2 linked regions of the Homo sapiens genome follow. Each later gene encodes a partner of the first gene's protein in a complex. Each region holds a gene or a part of one and is shown in the gene's direction. Other genes may lie near its edges.

The links. The genes of interacting proteins can lie anywhere in the genome.
Region 2: NCKAP1 (region 1) and ABI1 share a complex: the UniProt entries of both Homo sapiens proteins name them as parts of the WAVE2 complex.

The regions. Positions count from the first base shown.
Region 1 is NC_000002.12:183,035,445-183,042,570, reverse strand, and holds the start of NCKAP1 (nck-associated protein 1), read left to right. Parts: upstream 1-4,113; 5' UTR 4,114-4,471; coding exon 4,472-4,579; intron 4,580-7,126. UniProt on the Homo sapiens protein: Part of the WAVE complex that regulates lamellipodia formation. The WAVE complex regulates actin filament reorganization via its interaction with the Arp2/3 complex. Actin remodeling activity is regulated by RAC1.
Region 2 is NC_000010.11:26,857,958-26,865,729, reverse strand, and holds the start of ABI1 (abl interactor 1), read left to right. Parts: upstream 1-4,771; 5' UTR 4,772-4,866; coding exon 4,867-4,983; intron 4,984-7,772. UniProt on the Homo sapiens protein: May act in negative regulation of cell growth and transformation by interacting with nonreceptor tyrosine kinases ABL1 and/or ABL2. May play a role in regulation of EGF-induced Erk pathway activation. Involved in cytoskeletal reorganization and EGFR signaling.

The DNA.
Region 1 (7,126 bases):
TTCCCACAGCTTGGGCCCTTTTTCTTTCTGCATTCAATTTTGTCAGAAGGTGGTGGCTTCCCAAAGGAAGGGTTGAAGGACAGACAAAATTACTATGTCTACTTCTCAATTCCCAGGCTATTTCAAAGAGAAATTTGTTCATACATTTCTAGTCATACTTAGTAATACCTGGTTAGAAGTTTAATGGGAGGAAAAACATTATATTTGTCTTTAAGATCAAGTGGAACACTGAAGTTTGATGGGAGGAAAAACATTATATTTGTCTTTAAGATCAAGTGGAACACTGCCTTTGATGGCAGACCTCCTAATCAAAGGGCTTTATCCTAAGAACCTATAGAGATACCCTTAATCAATTTTTCTCACTTCTTGCCTTATATAGAGAAGCAACACTGGGTTGGGTAAACTAAGTGATTTTAAAAAAAGAACGCATAAACATTCTTTATGATTAGCAAAAGATATTACAGAAATAATTCTCATGCTAGTTTCTGGAGAAAGCAAAGCTAAAGAAAGCCATCTAAAAAAGCTGATGTATCGGTCAGGAAAAAATATGGCAGACTCTTAACTGTGAATTGAAGAAAGTGAAGGAACTGTTTATAAAGGTTTGAGCAGGGTTATAGGACTCTAGAGGAAACTATAGAATCATGTTCACTGGATGCATGAAAAATGTAGTGCCATCCAACTGTCTTGTCACAGTAGTGCACCAACTTTGGAGTCAGACCGATAAGGGATCCAATATCAGCTTTACCATTTTCTATGGGTGTGATCTTTGGCAATTAAAAAAAAAAACTGTCTGCATTTCAGTTTTCTCATCTGTAAAATTAAAGATGATAATATCTCTAAAGGTTTTTGAAAGAAGTAAATGAGAAAATGTAGCTCAAATTGTAACAACATCTGACACAGTGCAAAAACCATAACTATTAAATCTAGTTATCCTCCCTTATTTTATTCCTATTAGAGATATTATAAAGTTGGCCACAGAAACTTATTATTGAGGATCACGTTTGAGGATTATTGAGAATCACGTTTGGCTGTAAGTAAATAAAAAAAAAAACAAATAAAAAAGCTAGAAGTTTATTTCTCTTTCGTACAAAACCAGGTCTAGACAGGCCAAGTTTGACATGGCTGTTGTGTTCTAAAAAGCCCACATACACCTTCCATTTTTATGTTTTGTCATCCTTACTGAGTGGCTGTTGTCTTCCTGGTTCAAGATAGTGGTCATTGCATCCTTGTTGGGTGTGGCAGAATGAAGGAAGTGAGGAAGAACTGGCAAATGGAGAGCAGCAGCAGTCCCTTTAGGAAGGTTCTTGACAGCTTATATCTTACTGGTCAGAACATAAGCTGCAAGGGAGGCTGGATGATGGATGTACTTTTCCTTTTTTTTTTTTTTTTTTTTTTTTGAGACAGAGTCTCACTCTGTCACCCAGGCTGGAGTGCAGTGGTGCAATCACGGGGCTCACTGCAACCTCCTCCTCCCGGGTTCAAGTGATTGTCCTGCTTCAGCCTCCCAAGTAGCTGGGATTACAGGCACGCATCACCATGCCCGGCTAATTTCTGTATTTTTAGTAGAGATGGGTTTCACCATGTTGACCAGGCTGGTCTCAAACTCCTGACCTCAAGTGAGCCATCCACCTTGGCTTCCCAAAGTGCTGGGATTACAGGAGTGAGCCAGCGTGCCTGGCCTCAATTTCTCTCTTTCTTTCTTTCATCTCTCCTTCCTTCCTTTCCTTCCTCTCTCCCTCCCTTCCTTCTTTCTTTCCTTTCTCCCCTCCCTTCCCCTCCTCCCTCTCCTCCTCCTTCCCTCCCTCCCTCCTTTGCTTGCTTGCTTCCTTCCTTCCTTCCTTCCTCTCTCTCTCTTTCTTTCTTTCTTTTTAAGACAGGGTCTTGCTCTGTCACTCAGACTGGAGTACAGGGGTGTGATCACAGCTCACTGCAGCCTCTGCCTTCCGGGCTCAAGTGATCCTCCCACCTCAACCTCCAGAGTAGTTGGGACCACAGGCACGCCACCACCCCCAGCTAATTTTTAAATTTTTGTAGATATGGGGGTCTCCCTATGTTGCCAAGGCTTGTCTTGAACTTCAGGACTCAAACAATCCTCTTGCCTTGGCCTCCCAAAGTGTGGGGGTTACAGGTGTGATGGAGCTTGAGCCTAGCAGTTGAAGACCAGCCTGGACAACATAGGGAGACCCTGTCTCTACAAAAAAGTTAAAAAGTTTAAGAAAAATTCCCGTACACTTGTTCTTTTTAATGCAAAATGTAGAGAAAGACAAAAATTGTAATTCATCTACATCTAATCTCTTTTACGCAAATATATACATTTCATTACAGTCTAGGGCCAGTATGTCTATGAATTAGTGACAATAAATATTGAATAATGAGACTACTATCTACAGCGTTCTCCTATTGGGTACTTCCTGAGTTATAAGCAGCTACTAGTATTCAAGTTTATATGGCAACATGATAGTTTTTCTTGGGGAGTAAGAGTTGTGTTCAAATTTATAATACAGTGCCATTTTCTTGTTCTCCCTATACAGCAGTTTTTAAAAACTAGAAAATGAGACAATCTTTTATTGGTAGCACTCTGTAATTCTGCGTCTAGACTTAGTTATTTGTAGTCTCCCTAAAGGAGCACATATTTCCCCAATGTTCAACATTTTTAAATTTTCTTATCTGGCTACCCCAAACCCCTCCTCGCAGCCTCCCCTTCTCAGGTCTGCCCTTACTATTCCAGGCCCCACAACCTTGCCTCCTCTAAATTAAAATGTTAACTATCAGGCTGAGAAGTAACCAGATAAATTAAATTCCTTGACCAGTTAATGACTAGTAATAGCTCGACAGATGATCTCTCTGAAGTGTTTGTATTCTTAAGACTCTCTAGGTACAAAGCATTCATTCAAGGTACTGCAGCTTTGTATATAGAATTTCAGGCACACTGGCAGGTATGATTATGACTTCTTTTGGTGGGAACAGGACTCTTTTAAATGCCCCTTAGATTAAATCCATTCAGTCCACTCCTTCTTTCTTGTTGGAATATTAAAATGAAGATTTCTTTACGAATAGTAGATATAGTAGCTTTAAAAAATATTTTAAAGCTATTCATTACAATTTCCTTTTCTTAAAGAGTTTTGATAAATCCAGTGATGGCTTATTACTCTTAGAATGTCTTATTGAATGTGGCGGGACATTTTGTTACTGACTTAAAATTAATGAATATAATATAAAAAATTAACATATCGAGAAAAGGCAAAGCCAAAAATATTAGAGGCCTGAGTCCTCTTGGCTGAAGTTTCTCACCTCAATTACGTAAGTCCTCAGTTAGTTCACTTTTGGAATCATGTCTAATACATTTGACAAGGGAGTAGCCTTGGAGTGTCGCTAAGAAGAAATTGATCAGGAAAAATGAGATGGCAAAGAAGAATGTTTCCAAGAAGAAGTGGGATTTAGGGTGGAGGCTGTAAAAAAATGGGAGCGGTTCCTTTAGGCATTGAACAAACATTTATTTTTTGCCTTCCACATGCCAGGACCTACTGCGTCTCCTCCGGATGGGTGCTCCTCGCCGACAAAGTCTAGATTGTGATTATCTCAAGGACTTGAGTTACCCTCACTTCCGACCTCCTCTCTCACAAACTGGTTCCAGGCGGGGAGACTGAGGATGGGCTGGGGAGGCTGGCAGAGGCGATCCCCACCTCGCGGAGCACAACATCTGCTGTGTTCTGCGGCGAGCGCCTGTCAAGCAGTGGGAGGAAAAAGCGCTTGGAGCCACCAGCCCACTCTTAAGCGAAACTCGCCTGGAAAACACCCCGCCTCCCAGCAGAGTTTCTGCCGGTTTCTTTAGAAGGGTGGTGCGGAAAAGCAACTTTTGGGAACTTGAAGGAGTGGGGTGTGGGGCGAAGTGGAAAGAGCACACAACGCGACCCCACTCAGTCCCCGCTTGGGACTCCCATCCCGGCATCAGGCGTAGTGGGCGGTCCGGGCCAGGGCCAGGGCCAGAGCGGCGGCGGCGAGGCCATGCCGAGGGCCCGTCGGCCGCAGTTCCCCGTCCGGCCTCGCGGGGGCGCCGGCGCTGCCGATCAGGTGACCGAGGGCCCGTCCGGGGCTGCGGGAAGCGGCCTCGTTCTCAGCCGCCGGAGACGCCGCCGCCGCCGCCGCCGCCGCCACACCTAGTGGAGCAGCCGGGGAAGGCGGCTCGTTGGGGGCTGGGGCGGAGAGCGCCGGGGGTGGGGGCGGAAGGGCGGCGGGCGGAAGGCAGGAGGCTGCCGGGGCGCGGGCTGCTGCGGGAGAAGGGGCTCCGAGGAGTCCGCCGCGGCTCGCTCTGTCGCCGGCGCGGGATTGGGGCGCGAGGGCCATGGGCGCGCTCTCCTAAGGCGGAGGTCGCGGGCGGGAGGGGAGGAGGCCCGAGAGAGGCTGCTGCGAAGGCCGCGGGCCCGTGACTGGGCGCGAGGCGGCCGGCGGCGGCGGCGGCACCAGCACCACCATGTCGCGCTCAGTGCTGCAGCCCAGTCAGCAGAAGCTGGCGGAGAAGCTCACCATCCTCAACGACCGGGGCGTCGGCATGCTCACCCGCCTCTACAACATCAAGAAGGTGCGCACGGGCCGGGGAGGCCGCGGCGGAGGCGGGCGGGCCCGGGAGGGATGAAGGGCAAGGGAGGCCGTGGGGTGGGGGCGGCAGGAGGCGCCGGGTGTAGAAATCTCGGCGTCGCCGCCCGAGGCCCGGCCCGGGGTCGCCTGGATGCGCCGCGGCCTAATGCGGAGTCCCGGGCGCCTCTCCCTGTGGTTCGCCGGCCGGCCGAAGGCAGAGAAGCCATTTCCCGGCTCCCGGCGGCGGGATCGGGCGCTGGGCCTCGCACGGGGTGGGGGCGCCGCTGGGAGCCGGGAGCTGTCCCCTCCTCGGCGCCCCCGCCCCCATGATGGGGCCCATAGGAAAGGGAGGGTGGTGGGTGGGCGAAATTCTAGGTGGGTAGGAAAACTTGAGTGTTCCATATTCTTACGGAGATGGCAGCAGTGAACAGGGATTACACCCCACATCCCCATTTTTTGGTGTGGGAATGTGGGTAGAGAAGGGCTGATTGGATGAATCCCGTATCCCCTCCACTTTGCCACTTTATTTTAGATTGCTAAATAAAAAGCCATTGAGAGTGTGTTGACGATTTGGGATTATTTCATTTTGAAGGTGGAGAGGAGGGGGAAGTGAGGGTGGAACCAATTTTCTGAAATACTTCTAGGCTGTGAGTCACTAGAACTGGAATAACAACCTTCTACTCTTTCCCCTGTACTCCTCCTCATGTTAGATTTTCCAATACCATTTCTTAAAGTTCGGTGTCTGTACAAAATAAAAACCGTAAAAATGTTGCAATTGCTGCTGATTTATAGCATAGTCTGATAATTTGAGCAACTATAGCTAATAGGCCCATTTAAAGGCTTTTACATGTCCTCAGTACAGTAAGGAGTGGAAGACCACTGGAAGTTTAGAAAAGTCCATGTAAAGATAGAACAAATAATTACATTCATTATCGTAGGACAAAACAACAAAATCTCTCCCCTTAAGGCAAGGTTGGTAAGTTTTAAACAATTTGATAAAGAGAAAAAGAGATATTTGGAAAATTTAGATCCATCGAGTTTCCAATGTGTCTTTGATGTCATACCTTCATAACTATTTGTTGGCTTTTTAATATATCGTGAATGTTACCGTTTAGTTTAATCATAGCAATAGATTGTAGGTTGAGAGGGCTTCTGAAGAAAGGTTTTTTTTTTTTTCTTTGGAAATTCATTTCCAAGCGTTTGAGTGTAAAATTGATTTATTTTTTACAATTTGATGTAGACACTAATTCTAAAGAGTGTCCTGGTTTAATGATGATAAATTTTGGATAAGGACAAAGTCTGGTTGCTCACCTAATTGCAAGGCTTTATTACTCTAAACCCAGTGCTATCTGGAGAGTAACTGCAACATGCTTACTCAGTTTGTTACCTTTTATGTGGCAGGAGCTCAGTGTCATGACAAAGAAGCCCCTCTGCATTTACCAAGGAGCCTAGGTTATAAATTTATATAGGTTAGGAATAATTCAGTTTTAAATAGTATTACTTAGAGGTTGCATTGACCTGAACTGTTCGGGGAGATTGTGCTGCTTAAAAAACTTGGAAATTGATTCCTATATGAATTTTGTCCAAAAATGAACAAGTCAAATATTATAAAAGTTACTAGACCTGTGGTATTGTGGTTTAAAGGAAATGGTTATGATGGTTTCTAAAAGAGGAAGTGAGAGTAACATCAAAAGTGATTTGGGTATTTGGGCAAAATACCTTTTCTAAGCATTTATTAAACATTTTTGTAGGATAAATGCAATCAAACTTTAATATCCCACCTTCATAAATAAGATTAAATGAAATTCTGGGCATTTGAACTCTAATAATTCCAGTTCATTGCCTTTTCTCAAAAGCACTGTTTTTTTCACTTCCTGTTTTGGGAAGCTTCAGCCTCTTGTATTATTGAACTTGTGAAAGTTAAAATGCATTGAATGTGATCATTATTATATCCATGTCAAATATTTTGATTTATTGAAACGTCATATTTTAGCACTTGCCTTATATTTTTAGTTTCTTAAGAAATACATTGCTTACCTTGCTTGAGTGTGAATTTTCTCTGGGCAGGGACAGTGTAATTTTTGAAATACTAGAGTATTTAGGGCCTTATCTGATACTCGAGGCCTTCAGTTAGGCCAGGTTGAAATGAATGAATTACTTCCCTCCTCTCTCTCAAAACCTGTGTGCTCTAGTTTTAATAATAATACCCTTGGGTTTGCTCCCTTTGTGTAATTTTGCATGTAAATGAATCAGATAAGATTTTGGATCTTTCAGCCTATAGAATTGTCTGTGAGTCTGGCATATCTTCCCAGCTGGCTAGGAATTGAAACATTTGTTCAAATATCTTGCCAAAGAAGTGAGTAAGATCTGTTCACCATGTGTTTATTAGGTTCATGCTGTCTGCATTCTTACTGCATTATAAACCACATACTCTTTTCAATCTCAACCTCTTCTAGTCTTAAAAAAAAAACCTTCCACCTCATAATACATGTTTGCCAATCAATTATCACATTTTCATTAATGCATGTGCATTAGATTGTCTACCAGATCT
Region 2 (7,772 bases), on another chromosome or scaffold:
TTAATGTTAACTCTTGAACTTTCACTCACTTATACTTTTCATCATACATCAAATACAACAAAAATATGTAGTTTTTCCCTTTTTATTATTCGAAGCAAGGAATTGTTTCCCTGCTTGCATTTTCTTTGTCCAGTTTCATTGAGATATACTTTATTTATTTATTCTGAGACAGGATCTTGCTTTGTCACCCAGACTTGAGCGAAGGGTCACCATCATAGCTCACTGCAACCTCAGCCTCCTGGGCTTCTCCTGCTTTAGCCTTCCGAATAGCTAGGGATGCCACCATGCCCAGCTCAGAGGTATAATTTAGTTGCAATAAAAGGCACAGATTTTTTTTTTTTTTTTTAGATGGAGTCTCACTCTGTAGTCCAGGCTGGAGTCCAGTGGCATGATCTTGGCTCACTGCAACCTCCGCCTCCCAGGTTCAAGTGATTCTCTTGCCTCAGCCACCTGAGTAGCTGGGATTACAGGTGTGCGCCACCACACCCGGCTAATTTTTGTATTTTTAATAGAGACGGGGTTTCACCACATTGGCCAGGCTGGTCTTGAACTCATGACTTCATGTGACCCACATGCCTGGGCCTCCCAAAGTGCTGGGATTACCGGCATGAGCCACCACGCCCGGCAAAAGGCATAGATTTTAAGTGTGCAATTCAATGTGATTTGACAAATGTATGTAGTTATGTAGCCCCCAGTACAGTGATGATATTGAACATTTCCTTTACCTCTAAAAGTTCACTTGCATCCCTTTGGTGTCACCCCACCACTACTCCAGCCTTTGGCAAAGTCTGATCTGATTTCTATCACTGTAATTTTGCCTTTTCTAAAATTTCTTAGAAGAGGAATCATACAGTAGGTTATTTTTTTATTTTATTTTTTAGTTTTATTTTTTTCTGAGACAGAGTTTTGCTCTCGTTTCCCAGGCTGGAGTGCAACGGCTCAATCTTGGCTCACCACAACCTCCACCTTGTGTGTTCAAGCAATTCTCCTGCCTCAGCCTCCCAAGTAGCTGGGACTACAGGTGCGTGCCACCACACCCAGCTAATTTTGTGTTTTTAGTAGAGACAGGGTTTCTCCATGTTGGTCAGGCTGGTCATGAACTCCCAACCTCAGGTGATCTGCCCGCCTCAGCCTCCCGAAGTGCTGGGATTACAGGTGTGAGCCACCGTGCCGTTTTTTTTTGTTTGTTTGCTTTCTTTTTTTGAGATAAGAATCTCCCTCTGTCCCCCAGGCTGGACTGCAGTGGCATGATCTCAGCTCACTGCAACCTCTGCCTCTTGGGTTCAAGCAATTCTCCTGCCTCAGCTGCCTAAGTACCACGCCCGGCTAATTTTTGTATTTTATTTTTAGTAGAGATAGGGTTTCCCCGTGTTGGCCAGGCTGGTGTCGAACTTCTGGCCTCAAGTGGTCGGCCCACATTGACCTCCCAAAGTGCTGGGATTACAGATATGAGCCACTGTGCCCAGTCCGTGCCTAGCTACTTGAAAAAAACATACATGTTGTAGAGAGAGCCTGTTGCTCAGACTAGTCTCAAACTCGTAGGCTCAAGTGATCCTCCTGGTTCAGCCTCCCAAAATGCTGGGATTACAGGTGTGAGCCACTGTGCCCAGCCTTTTGGCTTGTTTTAAAAAACTGGTTTGTCATCTTATTACTGAACTGTAAGAGTTGTTTATATATTAGGGTACAACTCCTTTATCAAGATATTTGTTTTGCAGATATTTTCTCCCAGGTTTTGGTTTTCCTCGTCTTCCTTCTTTCTTTTTCTCCTCCTCCTCCTCCCCCCGCTCCCTCTCTCCCTCCTCCTTTTTCTTTTCTCCTCCTCCTCCTTCTTCTCCCTTCTCCTCCTTCTCCTTTTTCTTCCTCCTCCTCCTCCTCCCCCTCCTCTTCCACCCCTTTCTCCTCTCCTTCCTCCTACTCCTGTTCCTCCTGCTCCTGTTCCTCCTCACCTTTAAGGCATGAGGGATAAGTTCTTTTAGTGAACTTTACATGAGCCACAAATATTTGTACAAGTTTGCACTGTCCACTGGATTTTGGAAAGATCACTGTATTAGTCCATTCTAGCACTGCTATAAAGAACTATCTGAGACTGGGTAATTCATAAAGAAAAGAGGTTTAATTGGTTCCTGGCTCTGAAGGCTGTACCAGAAGCATAGCTGCTTCTGCTTCTGGGAGGCTTCAGGAAGCTTCCAAAATGGCAGGAAGGCAAAGGGGAAGAGAAATGTCTCATGTGGCAGGAGGGGAGCAGGAGGCAGGCGGGGAGGTGTCATATACATTTATTTCATTTTTTAGACATGGTTTCCTTCTGTCACCCAGGCTAGAGTGCAGTGCTGTGATCTTGGCTCACTGCAATCTGTGCCTTCCAGGCTCAAGCAATCCTCCTACTTCAGCCTCCCAAGTAGCTGAGTCTACAGGTGCTCACTACCACACCTGGCTAATTTTTCGTGTTTTTTGTAGAGACGGGTTTTTGCCATGTTGCTCGGGGTGGTCTGGAACTCAAGCGGGAGTAGTTCGTCATGTTGGTCTCCCATTTTGGGAGTCAAGTGGATTCTCCCACCTTGGTCTCCCAAAGTGCTGGGATTACAGGCACAAGCCACTGCACTGGGCTGTCATACACTTTTAAATGACCAGATCTCAGGAGAACTCACTCGAGATCATAAGGAGAGTTCCAACAGGATGCTGCATAACCATTCGTGAGAAATCTGCTCCATGATCCACTCCCGCTTCCCCCAGGTCCCAACTCCAACATTAGGGATTACAATTCAACATGAGATTTGGCAGGGATGCAGATCCAAACCATATCAATCAGTAACCTAGGAAACTTGACGGCATTTTCAGTGCCCTTAGCTAAACTCCTTAACCTATCTAAGCTTAAATTTCCTTATTTGATAAGGAAGGAAAATAATATTTATATTATCTGTCTCTCAGAGTTGTGAGAAGAAATCTGACAGTACTTTTTATTTGTATTTATCATCATCATCATTATTATTCATTCATTGCTCAACTGCATGGACAGTACGTTGAAAATAGTAAATTAGTATCACCTCCCTAATCACTTCCCCAATGTTGTTGAAATGTGTCAATATTTGAATATATACAAACTGAGTGATTTCTACAGTTAAACCTCAAGTAGAGACCAAGATCAATAATACATTAAATTTTAATAACTTGGATTAAGTCGTGTTTGGGTTAACGATAAATATCAAAAGATAACTATTACACCTATTCCAGATAATAAATGTATTACTTTCCATAATATCTGGAATAGGTATAATAGTTATCTTTTGATAGATTCCTTGATGGAGAATCTGGTGGCAAGGGGAAGTTAACGTTTTTAGTAGGAAACTGAGTTTTTCCTTTCAGAGGTCGAAGAGGGAAACTGGTTCCCTGGGGCCCTGAATAAGGCCCCAGTAAAGGCAATATTCAATAAATACCTGGTGCTGGCAATTTTTAATTTGGTTGAGTGATGTTTTTACTCCTAGTTATTTTGATTCTAAATGACTTTATGGAGATACATGAACATATGTCCAAAGTCTTTGGACAACACTTTTCATAGCTGATTATATCCGAAGCATTTAATGTTCCTGTTGAAGTGAAGAGCTTGAAATATAGGGCCTTTTGAGACTATTCCAAAGCAGGTGATAAAAACAAAACAAAACAAAAATCCAGGAGCAAAAAACGAAGGATCAGGGTGGGTGGCTCATGATTGTAATCCTAGCAGTTTGGGAGGTTGAGGCAGAAGGATTGCTTGAGGCCAGGGGTTCGAGACGAGCGAGGGCAACATAATTTGATCCCTGTCGCTATAAAAAATTAAAAAGCTCAGCCAGGTGTAGTGACCGACGCTTGTAGTCCCAGTTACTCTGGAGGCTGAGGCAGGAGGATCGCTTGACTTTAGGAGGTCTAGGCTGCAGAGACCCATGATTGTGCCCCTGTACTCCAGGCTGGGTAACAGTGAGATCCTGTCTCAAACAAGCAAACAACTCCCACCCCTAAAAAAACGTGCACATGACCTTAAAAGTGTAGGAAGATTACATGATAAGGAGAGTCAGAGAAAAGAGAAATTAGGACAGGAAAGCACTACAAGCTATGTATGTTTATTTTATAATTGAGTCTTTAAGGGTACGGAGTATTCGTACTCAACTTGTACCCCCAGTGTCTAGTACGCTGCTTGGTAAACAGCTGGCAATCAAGAAATGTTTGCTAAATTTTAAATGAATTGATGGGGGCGGAACTTCAGAAAGTAAAGCCTGACTCGCTTTATTTCTAAGAAGGCAGAGGAAGTAAAAATCTAGTTTTCCGTACTCTGTCCCCTTTTTAATCCTTCTCTGAATGGGTGTCCTTGATTCACTGACATTTCCTAATTAACCAAGTTCTGCCAAGTTTCACATGAAACTTGGGGAACCGATTTCATTCCCCCAGTATCACCCTGTGGCGCCACCTTCCGGAGCTGTGAGGAAACTCCGGACTTCCCCCCAACACCGCCCCCTCCCTCCACCCTCGGTCTCCGCTTTCTGCGCTCTGCCGCGTTGGTTTTCGGAGGTGTCTGGGCGCATGCGCTTTGGACGGGCCGCCTAGCCTAGGAGAGACTACAATTCCCAGAAGACAGTGCGAAAGAAAAAAAAAATCCCGCGGTCCGTGGGGGTGGGAGAAATAAACGCTCGCGAGAGAACGAGGTTCAGGCGGCTGCACGAAGGGGGTGGAGGGGGGCTGGAGAGAGTGAGGAGGAAGGGGAGGAGGTGCCGTCCCACAATACCAGGCGGGAGGGCGGGTAGGCGGTTTGTATCCGGGCTGTGAGGTGCTCGGAGCCTCGGCGGACCTTGCTGCCTCTGTCTCTTTAACGCGAGAGGAAGCGATGCAGAGGGGTGGAAAATGGCAGAGCTGCAGATGTTACTAGAGGAGGAGATCCCGTCTGGCAAGAGGGCGCTGATCGAGAGTTACCAGAACCTGACTCGGGTGGCAGACTACTGTGAAAACAACTACATACAGGTGAGGCGCTCTGGCGGCCGGCGGGCGCTGGCCGGGTCGAGGACCCGCCGGAGTGACCAGCCCACTGGGCGGGGTGGGGAACTGCCCTGACCTCAGCGGCTGCCACCAACCCGAGCCCCTACCGCAGCCCCAACCCCAGCCCCAACCGGGGACAGAGCGAGTGGCCGGGCTGAGGGAGTCGGGCTGCGATACAGGAAGTGGCTGTGGTGGTGGAAACCGATAGAAGGGGAGAGAGAAAATGGGCGAGGGAGCCGGGAGCCCGCCGCTGCCGCAGCCCGGCGCCCCCCTCGCGTCCGCTTCCCCCAGGGCCCGGCCACCGGGGTCGCGCGCCCCCCAGGTAGCCTCCAGTCCGCAGGGCTGGAGTCCCGGAATACCCCCGAGCTGCCGCCGCGCCGCCTCTCTGCGCCGGGAGAGGAGGTCCAGGACGGGAGAGGGGAGAGGAGAGGGCAGGGACGAGGCTGAAGCCGCAGAAGGGAGAGGACCAGCGGGGTGTGTGTTGTGTGTCGGCGGAGGGTGGGGTGGGGGCGATTATGTCAGTTTCAGCCCCCAGAGGGTGTGTCTTTTATTTATTTATTTATTTAAAAAAAATTTGTCATGAGTCACATTACACCGACCTCCCGGAGGAGAGGAGGAAGCGGGTGTGGGGAGTGAGGGAGGGCGTTTGAGAGAAGTTCATCTTAAAATTCCTTTAATTGAAGGTTTGTAAATCTGTCTGCTTGTCCATTTTCAAGTCGGGTTTTTTTTATTTTTTTCCCCCTCTCATCGTTTTCACTTCCGCCCCACCATAATGTATTCTAAGAGGTTGTTAGGGCTGCTATCATTAATTATCAAACACGAATTGTTCTTAACTCCTTGGAAAAACGGCTTACCCTCCCTTCTCCCAAAAGTTCTTGAGCTGTAGGCTTCATAAGTAACTTAAAATAGACTGGTGTCATCGCCGGTTGCTTATTTTCTGAGGTTTCTCTCTTAACAAGCTAAGTAAATGTATAGTATGTGAATCCAAATACAGAAACGAACAGAGGTAGCCTCTGAACTACAACGTAAAAATATCTGTTATTGTAAATTAGAAAACTCTTGGGACTTTGTGACAGATGCTTGTTTGTTCGTTTCTCTTTGGATGATTGGAAGTGAATTGTGTGTGGTAGTTTGTTTTGAAGATCTTTAACTGTGTAAACCAACAGTTTGCGCTAGAAACAAAGTAGCACAGTCCTTTGTATAAATATAAAGGCACCAGGAATGCTCTTGCTTTTGGTAAGGCAAGGCCAAAACGTGCTTTGAAAGGTTAGGGTTATTGCAATTCAGAACTAAATTGTTTATAGAAATGTCTCCCATGTGATTATAATTTTTAAGAACCGATGTTTCTGTGTTGGCAAATGCTTCCCCTCTTTATTTTTAGAGGGAGATGCTGTTTTCAGAATGTTTTGAATATTTCTCAGTTTTCATGTTAGTAACATTGTATCTTCAGTAGCACTACTCGGAATTTATCTTCACAATTTTTTTTTCAAGCTTTCACTTTAGGAATTCTCCTGATAAGTGAACTTGTTGAATGCCTGCCACATCTACTGTATCACTTTGTGCAAACTTTATATTTAGCCCTTCGAAAAACTTTTAAAAATCTAGTAGGGATGTGGATATGGTTTGCAAATATAAAAGTGATCTCGTAGTTTATCGATATTAAAAATAGGCAACTTTTATTCAACTTAACATGAAAAGCCTTGAAATTGAGGAGAACCTTAATTTGCTGAAAGTTTTAAAGATTTTTGAAAGCCAAAAGGAGAGCACAGTAAGTTTAATTTCTCGCTTTCCAGAAAAGTTATGTGTTCTCTGTAGAAGTCAGTAGATAAGTGCTTCATACAGGGGTGGCTCCTTTTTGTTTTGCATGTTGGGAAATCTGACAAGTATATAGTGTGGTAACTATGTGTTGGCAACTGTTAGTAACTGTAAACGTGTTTTAACCTGTCTGTGTACTATTACTTTTTCAGGTAGTTGTATGTTGTAATGCTTTTTTTTTACCCCTCTCTGACCCCTTTCCTTTACTCCTCTTGCTACAATCATGTAACTTTGAAGCACTTTAAAACTTCATTGCTAATATCTCTAATTAAGTCATGTTATTTTTCATACAGTCTCTCACTTTATAAAATGTTAGTGCCATGGTGCACGAATAGCCACAGTCAGTGGCCCCGTTTTTTTTTTTTTTTTTTTTTTTTTTCTTTTTTTGTGGGGGCGGGGTGGGGTATAATCCTAAATCTGACACCAGTGAGGTGTTTTGTTCATATTGGAAAAAAAAAAAAAGAATTCACGCAAAGCAATGATTATCTAAATACCTTAGTAGCCTTTATACGTTGGGCTGCATGATCCAGGCCACTAGTTGCCTCCCTAAGGGACTCAGACAGGGTCAGGCTCAGAAAGTGATGTGGAAGTTGATGTGGTAGGTGGTGCTGCTGACTTTGGTGCTAAGAATGGGGAATGAATAATATTAGAAATATCCATTAGGGTGTCTGTTGAGGTCTTTCTGTATCCTTCCTGTGACCTGATTGGGTTATTTATAACTAATACTCTTCCTAAATATATATCTCTTCTCAGTGAAAGTATGCAGTTCACGTGTGCTTTGAGAATTTTTAAATAAGGTGAGCTAAGTTATTGCTTGGGTGATTTTTGTTCTGAGATTCACTTTTCATTTCGTTTTTCTACAGTTTGAAAGTGCAGTCCAGTTTAGCTAAGGTGTGTAGCTGAGAAACTCTTTTGGCTGTGGTGCATTTAAGTTCTTGCGGCAGTTTATTAGTTCTTTG